Homo sapiens: one gene and its partners. The protein of the gene in region 1 purifies or fractionates together with the protein of each later gene. This does not show direct contact. Each region holds a gene or a part of one and is shown in the gene's direction. Other genes may lie near its edges.

The links. The genes of interacting proteins can lie anywhere in the genome.
Region 2: the proteins of EEF1D (region 1) and RRBP1 purify together in Homo sapiens (affinity purification with mass spectrometry; 3 studies listed by BioGRID and IntAct, with this or other methods). This does not show direct contact.
Region 3: the proteins of EEF1D (region 1) and TUBB8 purify together in Homo sapiens (affinity purification with mass spectrometry; 2 studies listed by BioGRID and IntAct, with this or other methods). This does not show direct contact.
Region 4: the proteins of EEF1D (region 1) and EEF1A2 purify together in Homo sapiens (co-immunoprecipitation; 4 studies listed by BioGRID and IntAct, with this or other methods). This does not show direct contact.

Annotation. Positions count from the first base shown.
Region 1 is NC_000008.11:143,580,416-143,583,915, reverse strand, and holds part of EEF1D (elongation factor 1-delta), read left to right. Parts: intron 1-2,587; coding exon 2,588-2,687; intron 2,688-2,761; coding exon 2,762-2,862; intron 2,863-3,188; coding exon 3,189-3,410; intron 3,411-3,500.
Region 2 is NC_000020.11:17,661,743-17,665,242, reverse strand, and holds part of RRBP1 (ribosome-binding protein 1), read left to right. Parts: intron 1-3,500. UniProt on the Homo sapiens protein: Acts as a ribosome receptor and mediates interaction between the ribosome and the endoplasmic reticulum membrane.
Region 3 is NC_000010.11:46,497-50,700, reverse strand, and holds TUBB8 (tubulin beta-8 chain), read left to right. Parts: upstream 1-1,404; 5' UTR 1,405-1,462; coding exon 1,463-1,519; intron 1,520-1,788; coding exon 1,789-1,897; intron 1,898-1,975; coding exon 1,976-2,086; intron 2,087-2,242; exon of another isoform or gene 2,243-2,276; intron 2,277-2,418; coding exon of another isoform or gene 2,419-2,586; coding exon 2,587-3,644; 3' UTR 3,645-3,813; downstream 3,814-4,204. UniProt on the Homo sapiens protein: Tubulin is the major constituent of microtubules, a cylinder consisting of laterally associated linear protofilaments composed of alpha- and beta-tubulin heterodimers.
Region 4 is NC_000020.11:63,489,084-63,492,583, reverse strand, and holds part of EEF1A2 (elongation factor 1-alpha 2), read left to right. Parts: intron 1-1,848; coding exon 1,849-2,105; intron 2,106-3,431; coding exon 3,432-3,500. UniProt on the Homo sapiens protein: Translation elongation factor that catalyzes the GTP-dependent binding of aminoacyl-tRNA (aa-tRNA) to the A-site of ribosomes during the elongation phase of protein synthesis.

The DNA of each region.
Region 1 (3,500 bases):
CACTCAGCCTCCCTCTCCCCTCCCTCGCTCCTGCTGCCTAGTGTGGGCCCTTGTGATGACAGTGGGCCCACCTGGGTGATCCAGCATCCTCTCTGCCGCTTAACTTAATCTTATCACATCTACAGAATCCCTTTGCCATGGGAGACCATATTTACAGGCTCTGCGGACTCGTATGTGGCTTTGTGGGGGCCATTGTTCTGTCTGCCACAGCCACAGCCACCTAGGGGTGTGCTGGCTCCCGGGCCATAAGCTGGGCATCCCTGGGTGGGTGGGCCCAGGAAGGGCTGCCACTCCTGTCTGCCAGGTGGGGTGCTCCTTTGTGCCTTGCGTTCTGCCCACTGGCTTGCACCCCTGGCTTGCCCAGGCACCTGACCAAGTCCAGGCTAGGCAGACATGAGATTAAGGGAGCACAGATTTTTGCGCCCAAGTCAGGCATATTGCACTCCAGTGCCCAGAAGGCAGCGGTCGGGGGCTTGGCCCTGGGGCTGCAGGAACTCTTCAGCCCTGGCTGTGTGGAGTCAACCCTAAGGTGTCTCTGGGACAGGCAGGTGGTCGCACTGTTAGGGCTTAGGGACTGGTTTGCTGCTATAACAAAGGTCCATAGACTGGGTGACTTAAACCACATGTATTTTCTCACAGCTCTGGAGGCTGGAAGTCCATGATCGAGGTGGCAGCAAGGCTGGTTTCTCCTGAGGCCTCTCTCAGCATGTAGACCGTCTTCTCCATGTCTTCACACGGTCATCCATCTGAGTGTGTGTGTGTCCTGATGTCTTCTTATTGGACACCAGTCAGATTGGATTAGCCCCCTGCCCCTCAGTGACAGTTACCTCTGCAAAGGCCCTGTCTCCAAATAAGGTCACATCCTAAGATACCGGGGGATAAGACTCCAGCATGTGGATTTGGAAGGACATTATTCAGCCCATGGCAGGGGCCCAGTCTCATCTTGGATTTGGGGTGGGAGTGCTCAGCAGACACTGGGGTTTCAGAACTGCAGGGTTTCTGGTAGCGTGGTGCTGGCACAGGGTTACAGGCATGGGTCTGGCTCTGAAGTGTTTGCCTTTGGCATCCCCCAAGTCCCTGAGGGGCTCTCTGAGGCCCGCTGTGACTGCACTGGGTGACCTGAGCCTGCCCGTTGAAGCTGTGCTCAGGGATTCTGATGCCTGGCATCCCTAGTCCCCCCTGAGTCAGCATCAAAGGAGGGGACTCTCCCTGTGTCCTGAGTGCTGTGGGCTCTGGCCTAGTGGCCCGCAGAGCCAGGCAGTGGTGAGACGGCCCCCGCTGCTCATCATGCAGCCCGGGGCCAGTGCTGACTTAGTGCCTCTTCCAGAGGGGACCTTTTCCCTGTCCTTGGGCCTGCTGTGTGGGGTGCATGAGGCCTCAGGTGCCACTCACAGACTCCGGCCTCCTCAGGACCCAGCCCCACTCCCGCGGGAGGTCTGCTGTGATTCTCCATGCCCCCTGGCGCCCCAAAGCCTGGCCCTCCCGTGCTCCGGCTTCTGCCCCCGAGTTTGTCAGTTTCTGCCGGTGCCTCCCGTACCCCCACCACCATTCACGCGCCTCTGCCAGCCTGGCCTTTCCCTGTCCATTTCCTCCTGGCCTTGCTGCCAGGTGGGCCTCCTGGGCCAGTTTGGCTCGGCCTTGCCCATGATCTGCGGGGCTTAGCTCCCACACCCTCCAGATACATAAACAAGCATTCCCCACAGCATGGTCCCAAGGACGGTGGCAGGAGGGCCCCAGGGATGGGTTTGCACGTTGGGCAAAGGCCTGAGTATGTCCGCACCTGCTGCAAGGAGCGGCTTTGCCTGCCCGGCTACTCCAGGCCCCTCCCCACAGAGAGGGAGCCCCGGGGAGCTGCCGAGATGGGGTTTGCTGAGAGCTCCATGCAGCCAGGTGCACCCTGTCCTTCGAGCCATCCTGTTGGAGGGTGGGCAGGCTAAATGGCCCATGCGTGCAGGTAGATGCTTAAGGACTGGCTAGTGTTAAGGGCCAGGAGGCTGGGATCCTGTCTGGGCCCCGAGGTATCAGTCTCAGCTATGGCAGAGTATGAGGTGGGCTTGGGGCCCTGGATCACCTAGAGACTGGCTTGCTGAGTGAGATGGCAGGCGTGAGGCCCAGGGAGACAAAGCTTTGGGTGGCTGCTGTCCACACAGGTGGGCTCCTTCCTTCTTCCCCCACTGGGCCCTCAGCTGCTCCCGCCTCCCATTTCCAGTGCTGCCTGGTCCCCTGAGGCGTGTCCCAGGTTGTCCCTAGGACTGTGAGTCCTTCAGCACCTCCCACCCAGCCTCTGAGCCTGGCTGCTCAGCAGGATTCCGCCGGGCAGCAGCAGCCATGGCCCAGCTCCCCACAGCCTCCGTCTCTGGGGCACCAAGAGCCTCCTGTCCTGGACTTTGCCTGGCTGAGAATTTCACTGTGGTCTGTGGTGGCCGCCACCTCTGAGGTCATAAGTTTGAGCTGGGCATCAGCGGGGGGCACCTCCTGCTCTCCCGAGCTGTAGTTTTCCTTCCGTGAGTTCCTGCAGTCCTGAGCATGGCAGGGGGACCCTAGGAGCAGGCTGGGCACTGAGCCCTCCCCTCCTCCTGCCTTGCAGAGCTCAGGCCCCGGGGCCTCCAGCGGCACCAGCGGAGACCACGGTGAGCTCGTCGTCCGGATTGCCAGTCTGGAAGTGGAGAACCAGAGTCTGCGTGGCGGTGAGGCCCCGGGCCAGTGGGTTGGGGCTGTCCCTGGCCCCTGCCATCTAACCGTGCTCCCCTTGCCCCCCCAGTGGTACAGGAGCTGCAGCAGGCCATCTCCAAGCTGGAGGCCCGGCTGAACGTGCTGGAGAAGAGCTCGCCTGGCCACCGGGCCACGGCCCCACAGACCCAGGTGAATGCTCTCCCCACGCCTGACACTGCAGGGGACCACGTGGCCCTGCTGGCTTCCACGTCGCCCTGTGGGCTGGCCCCAGCAGCAGTGATGAGCTGGCAGCCAGGATACTGGAGTCCTCAGGTCCCCAGGAAGGTTTACAGTTAGCCCTGGGCAGGTGGAGGCAGTTTTTGTCTTTCCTGGGGCCCTGCATGTACACAGCTGCGGTACACAGGGGCTGCCCTTCCTCCAGTCAAAGGAGGGAGGAGGGCCAGGAGGTGGCCAGGCAGCTCTGGGCCCTGGTTGGGGCGTCTCAGCCGTGCCTCCTGTCCCTTCCCCTGTGGCAGCACGTATCTCCCATGCGCCAAGTGGAGCCCCCAGCCAAGAAGCCAGCCACACCAGCAGAGGATGACGAGGATGATGACATTGACCTGTTTGGCAGTGACAATGAGGAGGAGGACAAGGAGGCGGCACAGCTGCGGGAGGAGCGGCTACGGCAGTACGCGGAGAAGAAGGCCAAGAAGCCTGCACTGGTGGCCAAGTCCTCCATCCTGCTGGATGTCAAGCCTGTGAGTGGGCGGGGTGGGGCTTCAGGGGGCCAGGCACTGCCCTGGTGCCCGCCTAGCCGGCTCAGCCTGTGACCCTCCCCCTGCCCTCTG
Region 2 (3,500 bases), on another chromosome or scaffold:
GGTAGAGATAGATACATGTAATAGAAGCAAAAGCAGGTGGAAGTGGTAAGTGGCCCATTCAGGGTGTTGTCCCCCTCTAGAAGGGAGATGACATATATATACATATACACATGTGTGTGTGTCCCCCCCCCACATATATATGTATACACAGGCACATACATATATATATAAATAAATATCTAAAGTGCATATGGCAAAATGTTAGGGTTTGGTAAACCTGGGTGGTAGGCTAATGGATGTTCATATTTTTCTTTTTAGTCTTTTGTATGAGTCATTTCATAATATTTTAAAAATTAGGAGCTGTTGATTCTGATGTAGCCATGTCTGCTAGGGTCTCTGTTTTATTGTCATTCTGTTTTAGTTCTGTACCTTCCTAGCAGGTCACCTTATGCCCAGGAAATGGATCTGGGGGTTGGTTTTCTTTGTCCACCCCTACCCCACAGCTTCTCCAAGCTTCCACACACGGTCCCCCGTGGAGCTGCTGCTTAGTAATGAGACAGAGTCCTGGGAGCTGTTGAGGGTCTTTTCACAAAACCTACCAAAATCCCAGCTGCCAAATTGGACCCAACTGGCTTGGCCGGGCCATGTGAATTAGCAGATATCTTCTGTGTCTAAAGAGTTTGGGGCTTCCTCTTACTTTTGTTCCCCGAATCTTAAGAACAGAAGAAGAGCCATTCTCTCAAGATCTTAGAGGTGGGCCAGTGAGTTCAGTCTGTCCAGCCTCTGCGCAGCCTCCTACATCCTTCCCTCTTGGGGCCTTCATCTTTTTGTCTTACAGTCTGAGTATGTTAGCAATATCGTAGTCCCCCTTTATCTATGGTTTCACTCTTTGTGGTTTCAGTTACCAGCAGAAAGCTGTGGTCTGACAATATTAAATGGAAAATTTCAGAAAGAAACTCTTCCTGAGTTTTAAGTTGCATGCCATTCTGAGTAGCGTCTTGCCTGGGATGTGAACGATCCCGTGTGCAGTGGATTCACGCCGTCTGTGTTACCTGCCTGTGCGTCACTTGGTGGCCCTCTCAGCTTTCAGATCCACTGTCTGGTATCACAGTGCGTGTGTTTGAGTCACCCTTACTTTACTTAATCATGGCCCCAAAGTGCAAGAGTGGTGATGCTAGCATATGGTTATAATTGTTCTATTTTATTATTGTTAATCTCGTACTGTGGCTAATTTCTAAATTAAATTTCATCATAGGTATGTAGGTATAGGAAAAAAATAGTGTATATAGGATTCAGTATTACTGCAGTTTCAGACCCACTGGGGGTGTTGGGAAGTTTCCCAGAGGATAAGGGAGGACCACTGCAGGGAGTAAAAGTACGTATTTGACAGAAGTTTCTGGAATTGACAGAATATAGATCCCTGTGGTCAGACCCTACAAGGTATGGGTGGGCACACATCTGCCCTAACTCTGGTGCAGTGGAGGAAGCCCTAGAAGAGGTTTCTGTTGGGGGCCTCTTATCATGGTGTGGATTTCAGGAGCAAATCTCCCGGAATGCTGATTGTGAGAACCGAATTTGAGAGGCATCCCTGGCTTCATCATTTCTGTGAATCAGGGATCTCCCAGCATGATGTTTACGCCTCACTGAAGCTGACTCTGCAAAGCAGCAGAAAGGTTGTTTTTCATTTCGATTTCTTTGCTGTCCGTGGTGGTATTGCCTTAGCCTTAAATGTTTCAGTGTATTACTACTTAAGACTAGGGCTTTTCATTTTCTTGTGAAAGATTTCTTTTAAAAAATTCTAACTTGGGAATTAGTGGTGGGGATGTAATTTCTTTTTCTGCAAAAGTTGGGAAGACACATTTGTGCTGCTATAAAACATATATTTGTGTGCGTTGCAAAGGAAAAATATTCTCCCGAGTTTGTTTTTCTCGATTCTGGGTCCCAACAGAGAATATGTTTTTGTATTCTGTGTTTGCCTATGTTGAGTAAGATTAAAAGTTCATTTTCCAGCCTTGGCTTTTCTGCTGGAGTTTAGAAGTTGGAAACCACAAGGCTGCACAGAGCCCCACAGTCCTCGGCTGTGAACAGGCCCCGCTTTGTGCGTGGCTGTTCACTGTGTCACGGTCTGCAACCAGTGCCAATCGCGACTCGGTAAAGACCACCCCTCGAGCACATGGTTGTTGGGAAACGATTCGGGGTTTATGGAGCCTCAGTGAGGGTGACCCAGGCCCCTAATGTTCGTTTCTCTAGAGAAGGGGAGTGTTTTAGAGGATTTTTTATTTTTTTTTAAATAGAGATGGGGTCTCACTATGTTGCCTGGGTTGGCCTTGAACTCCAGAGCTCAAGCGATCCTCCCTCCTCAGCTTCCCAAGGTGCTAAGATCACAGGCTTGTACCACCATGCCTGGCCTTAGGATTTTTGAATGTAGTGATTATAATGTGGTGTCCATTTTGGCAGAGTTCTGAGAAATCTTGTAAGTACCCAGAGGAGTTTTGGTTGGTGGGTACCTGCCAAAAAGTGAGGGTTGACTGTACCATGTTCCAGACCTTCTTGTCCCCATCCTCCTACCCACTGAATCCATCCATGGCTGAGCAGGGTGCGATTTCCTTTTTAACACCCAGCTTGAGAGTGTGTTCTCGGAAGGCCAGTTCCTGGTATCCTCCCTCGATGATCAAACGTGAGAGTGCCCTGGCTGTGGATCACACTGTCACTGCCCACGGCCAGAGGTCAGAACCCATTTGGAAATATAAATGCTGCCTTACCCAGGATTCAAAGGCCTCCATGAGCTCCCCTAAGACTTTGTAGAGGTTAAGACTGGAATGAAAAGTGTGACTCAGTCTCGCTCAACGCCGAGTGACAGTGTGGGAGAAGTGTGTTGCCACAGCAGCTGATAGAGTTGTCCCCAGGGAGAGCATATGCTAGGAAGTTTCTTCGTCATGAGTGTTTTAAACCCTCTTCTTGTGAAGGTCTTAGAAAGGTCAAAGTAATGTGTTCCTTCTGTGATGAGAGTGATTTTTTTTTTTTTGAAAATTTTTTTTTTGAGACGGAGTCTCGCTCTGTCGCCCAGGCTAGAGTGCAGTGGCGCGATCTTGGCTCACTGCAAGCTCCACCTCCCAGGTTCATCCCATTCTCCTGCCTCAGCCTCCCGAGTAGCCTGGACTACAGGCACCCGCCGCCACGCCTGGCTAAGTTTTTTGTATTTTTAGTAGAGTCAGGGTTTCACCGTGTTAGCCAGGATGGTCTCGATCTCCTGACCTCGTGATCTGCCTGCCTTGGCCTCCCAAAGTGCTGGGATTACAGGCGTGAGCCACCGCGCCCGGCCGAGAGTGATTTTTCTTAGAACACAATGCCAAGACATTGAAAACAGTCTCCCTTCTCAGTCCCTTCTTTAAAATGCCCTCATGTCAAAATTTGGATTTGATTCCTACTCTGTTTCCTTCCTCTATAACCACTCAAGAGGAGTGGGGATCTCAATGTCTTAGGAGAAGAATCTCAGTATCTGAGCCACTAAGCAGCCTGGACCCAGTCTCCCACAGCATCTAGAGGTTTTGCAGGGCAAT
Region 3 (4,204 bases), on another chromosome or scaffold:
CAAGTATGATTTTTTAGTGCTTCATGCTTATGCTGCAATTTGGAATGGGTGGGGACTCCTGACCCCCAAGGGCTTTTCCATACAACATCGTTCAGATTTTGAGCTTGTTAGAGTGCTGCTTTGCTGCCAAAAAGTGAGTATAATTAATTGCAGAGGACATCAAAAGAGAGACTGACCATGTAAAAGGAAATGCCCTTGTAGATGCCACAGCCAAGGCCCCTGCACTGAAAGGGCCAATGAAGCTTGTGGGCGTGCTGGTCAGCATACATAGAACTGGGCCAGAATACCCTGAAGAAGAACGAAAATGGGCCAGGGATTGCATTTCAGTCCAGGGCCCCTCGGGCTGAATGATGGTAATAAATTACTAATGCCAAGTACCAATCACAGGAGTATAACTCAGCACTTTCATGATTCTTTTCACCCTAGAAGGGATTCTTTGTTTCTGTTAATGTCTCATTTGTTTATAGGGGTAAATCTTTTCAAGACACTAAAACAGGTGACTCAGCCCTGTGAGCTTTGTGCCTGACATGACTCAAATGGCCAGCAATTTTCTCCTTCTCCAGTTAAACCTGTCCAAAATTGAGGAACCTATCCAGGTGAGAACTGGCCACTCTAATTTACCCGGAAGCCTTTCTGCAGGAGATTCAAATATTTGCTAATGCTTACTGACACCTTCACTGGTTAGATCGAGGCATTCCCCACCCCATCTGAAAAATGTTTACCAGAAGAAATAACTCCTCAGTTTGGGTAATCCAAAAGCCTGCAAAGTGACAATGGCCCATCTTTCACAGCAGGCGTATCCCAAAACCTGTCCTCAGCTTTAAGAATCCAATATGACCTTCACTCTGCTGGAGACCACAGTCCTCTGGAAAGGTGAAAGGGCTAACCCTACTCTAAAGAAGACTCCAGCTAAATCAGAGGCCTGACTGTCTCTAACACCCATAGCTTATTGTGGGTTAGAACTGCTCCAAAGTAAAACGTATAATTGAGTCCTGTTGAGTTCACATGTGGAAGGCCTTTCCTAACCACAGATCTCCTAATAGATGAAAAGACTCATCAATTACAAAAATATGTCATCAATCTAGGACAGGTGCAAAGGCACTCCGTGCATATGGAAACAAGAGTCTTCCCCTCCCACATGGGAGGAAAATTCAGTTTCAGCTCAGCTAGGGATTTAGTCTTACTAAAGACGCGGGAGGAAGTTCTCCAGCGAGCAGCTTTCCCCAACGTGGAAAGGACCACGCAAGGACACCTGAGCTTTCCAACAGATGTTCAGCGCCAGGGGATCCACAGGTGGGTGCACCTGTGTGGAAGTAAAGCTGTTGCTTATTCTGGGAGCCGAATCCGAGGCGGAGGGAGGTGGGCGCGGGGCTATTTAAACGTTGGCGGAGGGCGGGCTGGGTCGCTGCGCGTCTGCTCCTCCTTCTCACGTTTCTCCTGCCGTCCTAATCCCGCCTTGGCCATGAGGGAGATCGTGCTCACGCAGATCGGGCAGTGCGGGAATCAGATCGGCGCCAAGGTTGGCAGCCGGGGCTCTGAGGGCCTAGCCCGGGCCTGCCGGGTGGCCGGGGAAGGTGTTGGCAGTGGCGGGGGCGGTGCCCATGCATTGCGGCCCCTGGGCTCCCTGCCGGGGACGGTGGAACCGGGTGGCTGGCGAGGCGGCCGGGGTGGACCCCAGGGACAGGGCGGCCTAGGGATGGGGGTGCGGATGAGGGTGGGGGTGGGAGAGCGGCTGGGGCGCCTCCCTGACTCAGCCCCGGCCTGTCTGTCTCCTCCCGTCTCTTGCAGTTCTGGGAGGTGATCTCTGATGAACATGCCATCGACTCCGCTGGCACCTACCACGGGGACAGCCACCTGCAGCTGGAGCGCATCAACGTGTACTACAACGAGGCCAGCGGTGAGACCCCCGTCCTTCCCCCACCGCCCTCCTGGGAACGCGGCCCTCCCCTCGCTCATGCCCTCCCGCCCCACGCAGGTGGCAGGTACGTGCCCCGCGCTGTGCTCGTGGATCTGGAGCCGGGCACCATGGACTCTGTGCGCTCGGGGCCCTTCGGGCAGGTCTTCAGGCCAGACAACTTCATCTTCGGTGAGCTGCGGGCGAGGACTGGGGTGCGGCTCCTTAGCCAGGGCAGCTCAAAATCCAGGAGTGTGCTAAGGTCATCCTCTGGGAACTGTGGAGCTAGGGCCCCTGAACACCCTCCTATCCTCCGAGTCGAGTCGCTCAATCTGCCTCTCCTAAATGGGCTTCGGGAGGAAGGCCCTGGTGTCTCCTCAAGGTGAGGAGTTACTGATGTAAACTCCCTGCAAGAACCTGAGCTGGGGCCGTGGCTACTGCCTTTCCTGAGAATGGGCAGGAGCCACCTGCAGCGAGGTCTGTGAACCCGTCTCAGGTTTGACTCCTGTCTTAATTCCTAACAGGGGAAGCTGCTGTCCTGTAACTCTGGGGGAGGGGGTTTCATCTGCTCCACCTGCAGGGCGAACGGTGCTCTCACCTCACGTGTGACGCTTGGCTCTTTCTGCATTATGGTGGTGACCACTGATGACCGTATACCTGGCCGTCGAGTGACCGGCTGTGCTGTCTTACAGGTCAGTGTGGGGCCGGAAACAACTGGGCCAAGGGACACTACACCGAAGGCGCGGAGCTGATGGAGTCAGTGATGGACGTTGTCAGAAAGGAGGCTGAGAGCTGTGACTGCCTGCAGGGTTTCCAGCTGACCCACTCCCTGGGTGGGGGGACTGGGTCTGGGATGGGTACCCTTCTGCTCAGTAAGATCCGGGAGGAGTACCCAGACAGGATCATAAACACATTCAGCATCCTGCCCTCGCCCAAGGTGTCGGACACCGTGGTGGAGCCCTACAACGCCACCCTCTCAGTCCACCAGCTCATAGAAAACGCAGATGAGACCTTTTGCATAGATAACGAAGCTCTGTATGACATATGTTCCAAGACCCTAAAACTGCCCACACCCACCTATGGTGACCTGAACCACCTGGTGTCTGCTACCATGAGTGGGGTCACCACGTGCCTGCGCTTCCCGGGCCAGCTGAATGCTGACCTGCGGAAGCTGGCCGTGAACATGGTCCCGTTTCCCCGGCTGCATTTCTTCATGCCCGGCTTTGCCCCACTGACCAGCCGGGGCAGCCAGCAGTACCGGGCCTTGACTGTGGCTGAGCTTACCCAGCAGATGTTTGATGCTAAGAACATGATGGCTGCCTGTGACCCCCGTCACGGCCGCTACCTAACGGCGGCTGCCATTTTCAGGGGTCGCATGCCCATGAGGGAGGTGGATGAACAAATGTTCAACATTCAAGATAAGAACAGCAGTTACTTTGCTGACTGGCTCCCCAACAACGTAAAAACAGCCGTCTGTGACATCCCACCCCGGGGGCTAAAAATGTCAGCCACCTTCATTGGGAATAATACGGCCATCCAGGAACTCTTCAAGCGTGTCTCAGAGCAGTTTACAGCAATGTTCAGGCGCAAGGCCTTCCTCCACTGGTACACGGGCGAGGGCATGGATGAGATGGAATTCACCGAGGCCGAGAGCAACATGAACGACCTGGTGTCTGAATATCAGCAATATCAGGATGCCACGGCCGAGGAGGAGGAGGATGAGGAGTATGCCGAGGAGGAGGTGGCCTAGAACTCTCCTTTTCTAGGTAAAGGGGGGAAGCAGTGTGGATTCTTTACTGTGTTCTGACAGCCATGTGTCACTATACGCTTGTTAATTTGTGTCTTCACATCTCCTGCTGCGTTTTAAAGCATTTTTATAGTATGCGGTTTTGACTAATAAAGTATTCTCACAGCATCTGGTTTTGCCTCCATCTTCTTTCTATGGGCCCTCTGGCTACTGCTGCCAGATGCGCATAGTTGTCCTGCAAGGCGGAAGCTGTCTGGGTTCATCACATGCCCAGGAACAAGCATTCCAGTGGCTCCAGGAGGGGTCGGTATGGGCTGTGGACATGGCAGGCAGGCTTCACATGAACTTGGGGATGCCCTGGGCCTTGGGCAGTGACGTGGTGGAAAACCTGTTGCTGAAGGCAAGCCTTGGCTTATCCCATATACCAAACTTCTAGGGGACCAGCTGGCCATGTTTCTGGAACGTTAAAAGGGGTCAGTGACCCTGGTGGACAATGTCCCCAGAGTCCCATCTCAGGGTAGGAATGTGGTCAGAGCTGGCTCTGAACCAGCAATGAAGGGTGG
Region 4 (3,500 bases), on another chromosome or scaffold:
ATCCATTGTCCCACCCATCCATCCTTCTCTCTATCCATCCATCCATCCTTCCATCCATCCATCCACCTCCCCACCCATCCATCCTTCTGTCCATCCATCCATCCATCCATCTCTCCATCCATCCATCCATCCATCCATTGTCTCAACCATCCATCCTTCTCTCTATCCATCCATCCATCCATCCATCCATCTACCCACCCATCCATCCTTCTCTCTATCCATCCATCTATTGACCCACCCATCCATCCTTCTATCTATCCATCCATCCATTCATCCACTCACCCACCTACCCACCCATCCATCCTTCTGTACATCCATCCATCCATCCATCCACCCACCTACCTATCCATCCATCCTTCCATCCATCCATTTATCCATCCATCCATCCATCCATCTATCCACCCACCTACCCACCCATACATCCATCCATCCACCTCCCCATCCATCCACTTCCCCATCCATCCATCCATCCATCCATCTCCCCATCCACCCATCCACCTCTCTATCCATCCATCTCCCCACCCAGCCATCCTTCCCTCCATCATCCATCCATCCATCTCATCCATCCGTTCATCTCCTCATCCATCCATCCATCCATCCATCCATCCATCCATCCATCCATCCACCTCCCCATCCGTCCGTCCATCCATCCATCCATCCATCTATCCCCCCATCCATCCATCCATCCATCCATCCATCCATCCATCTATCCATCCACCTCCCCATCCATCCATTCATCCACCCACCTTCCTACCCATCCATCCTTCTGTCCATCCACTCATCTACCTCCTCATCCATCCATCCATCCATCCATCCACCAATCCATCCATCCATCTCCCTACTCATCCATCTCCCCACCCATCCTTCTGTCCATCCACCTCCCCATCCATCTACCACCCCATTCATACATCCATCCATCCATCCACCCACCTCCCCATCCATCCGTCCATCCATCCATCCATCCCACCAAGAAGAGAAACCATAAACAAATCTGAGACCCTAGAGAAGGGCACTGATAGGAGACCCCCAGCCAGTGGGCTGCAGCCAAAGATGTTGCAGGCATCTCTGTGTGCACTGTGGGGGCATCATGCTCACCCCAGCACAGAGCACAGCCACTGGCCTCAGTGAAGTTGGCTGGAGGCTACAACAGGCCTCCCTCACAGCCCTGGGAGGTGAGGGTGGAGACCCAGTAGCCTGGGGGGGGACAAGACCCCCATGTGGCAGCTGCACAATTGGTTTAAGTAGATCCATGAGAAATGCCAGGGACGCTCATGTGCCGCTGTGCCTGTGCTGCATCTGGCTGAGAGGCCCCTTTAGTGATAGAGACCTGCAGCATCCAAGTGGGGCCCAGAGAGCCTGCAGGGAGCAGGGAGCAGGGCCTGCAGGGAGCAGGGAGCAGGGCCACCAGGCCCCAGGCAGAAGCAGTCAGTCGCCCCGCCCACACTCACAGGGAGGAGTCCTCAGACAAAGGAGGGGTCCCATAGTGCCTCCTTTGAGGGAAAGTGCTCTCCGGGGGCAAGGATGGGACCCCAGGTTCAGACAGCCCCTCTCTGCCCATCCTCCCGCTTCTCTGTCCCTGTGGCTTTTCCGTGGGTTCCTGGGAGCTCTGCTGCTCAGCCTCTTATTTCCCCAGCTGGGTGGGAGAGCCCCCACTTCCCTTGGAATCTCTGTGTCTGCCCTTGTCCCTGGCCTCCCTTCCCCTGCACTCCGCCCATGTGGCCCCAACCCCCAGGCCTGTCGGGGGGATCCAGTCCCAGGCTTTGTTGGTTTCCAGGCTCTGTCCCCGAATATCCTGCCCCAGCATCCCCTCGGGCCCCACCTTCCCCTCACACCCCCTCCCCTCTGCAGGCATTGGCACGGTGCCCGTGGGCCGGGTGGAGACCGGCATCCTGCGGCCGGGCATGGTGGTGACCTTTGCGCCAGTGAACATCACCACTGAGGTGAAGTCAGTGGAGATGCACCACGAGGCTCTGAGCGAAGCTCTGCCCGGCGACAACGTCGGCTTCAATGTGAAGAACGTGTCGGTGAAGGACATCCGGCGGGGCAACGTGTGTGGGGACAGCAAGTCTGACCCGCCGCAGGAGGCTGCTCAGTTCACCTCCCAGGTGGGGGGCTGCGCTGGGTCCAGGGGGCTGGCGCCTGCTGGACAGCAGCAGGACTGTCCTGGGTGAGGCTGCTGTCGGCAGGTGGCCTGGCGTGGGGAGAAAACCAGACCCTCAGGCTGGGCGCAGTGGTTCACGCCTGTAATCCCAGCACTTTGAGAGGCCGAGGCGGGCAGATCACGAGGTCAAGAGATCAAGTCCATCCTGGTCAACATGGTGAAACCCCGTCTCTACTAAAAATACAAAAATTAGCCAGGCGTGGTGGCACGTGCCTGTAGTCCCAGCTATCAGGAAGCTGAGGCAGGAGAATCGCTTGAACCTGGGAGGCGGAGGTTGCAGTGAGCCGAGATTGCGCCACTGCACTCCAGCCTGCGTGACAGAGCGAGACTTCGTCTCAAAAGAAAAAAAAAAAAAGAAAAGGGACCCGCATACCACCGAGGGGGCCACCGAGCACTCAACGAGGGGATCAATCAGTTCTGGGAGGGGTGCAGGCCCTGTGGCTCCCAGCCTGTGTGCAATCGCGGGTCTGTCTTCCACGCTGCACTGCTGGGATGCCCAGCCTTTGAGGTCCTACATTCGTCCTAGAAAAACGCTTTTGTTAACTTACTGTCTGAGACATCTCTGTCATACTTTTATTCTCTACAGTCTTCATTGCCCCTCTTTGCTGGCCTCTTCATATGATTTATTTATTTTTTTTTTGAGACGGAGTCTCGCTCTGTTGCCCAGGCTGGAGTGCAGTGGTGCGATCTCGGCTCACTGCAACCTCCGCCTCCCGGGTTCAAGTGATTCTCCTGCCTCAGCCTCCCAAGTAGGTAAGATTACAGGCATGTGCCACCACGCCTGGCTAATTTTTGTATTATTAGTAGATACGGGGTTTCACCATGTTGGCCAGGCCGGTCTCGAACTCCTGACCTCAAGTGATCCACGTGCGTCAGCCTCCCAAAGTACTGGGATGACAGGTGTGAGCCACCGTGCCTGGCCTCTTCATATGATTTTTAAAAGTGGCTTTATTGAGATACAACTGAAACACAGGAATTGAGGTCCAGTTTTGTCACCCCCCCGCCTTAGTTCCAGCTGGGGTTGGCCGTGTAAGTGCTGCCCCTGCCCCTTCGAAACAATGAATCTCAGTTGTTTATCTTTTGCTTAATGAGGATGTTGAGGTTCAGGTCTGGGGGCTGGGTCCTCAGAGCCTGAGCCCCCTCCAGTCAGCACTCCGGGCCCAGGAGCCCGTGCAGGGGCGCCGGTGACTGGGCCTCCCAGCCCCGCTCTGGCGCCCTCCCGGTGCCCACCGCCGATGTGCCTGATGGCCGCCTGTGGCTCCGCTCGCAGGTCATCATCCTGAACCACCCGGGGCAGATTAGCGCCGGCTACTCCCCGGTCATCGACTGCCACACAGCC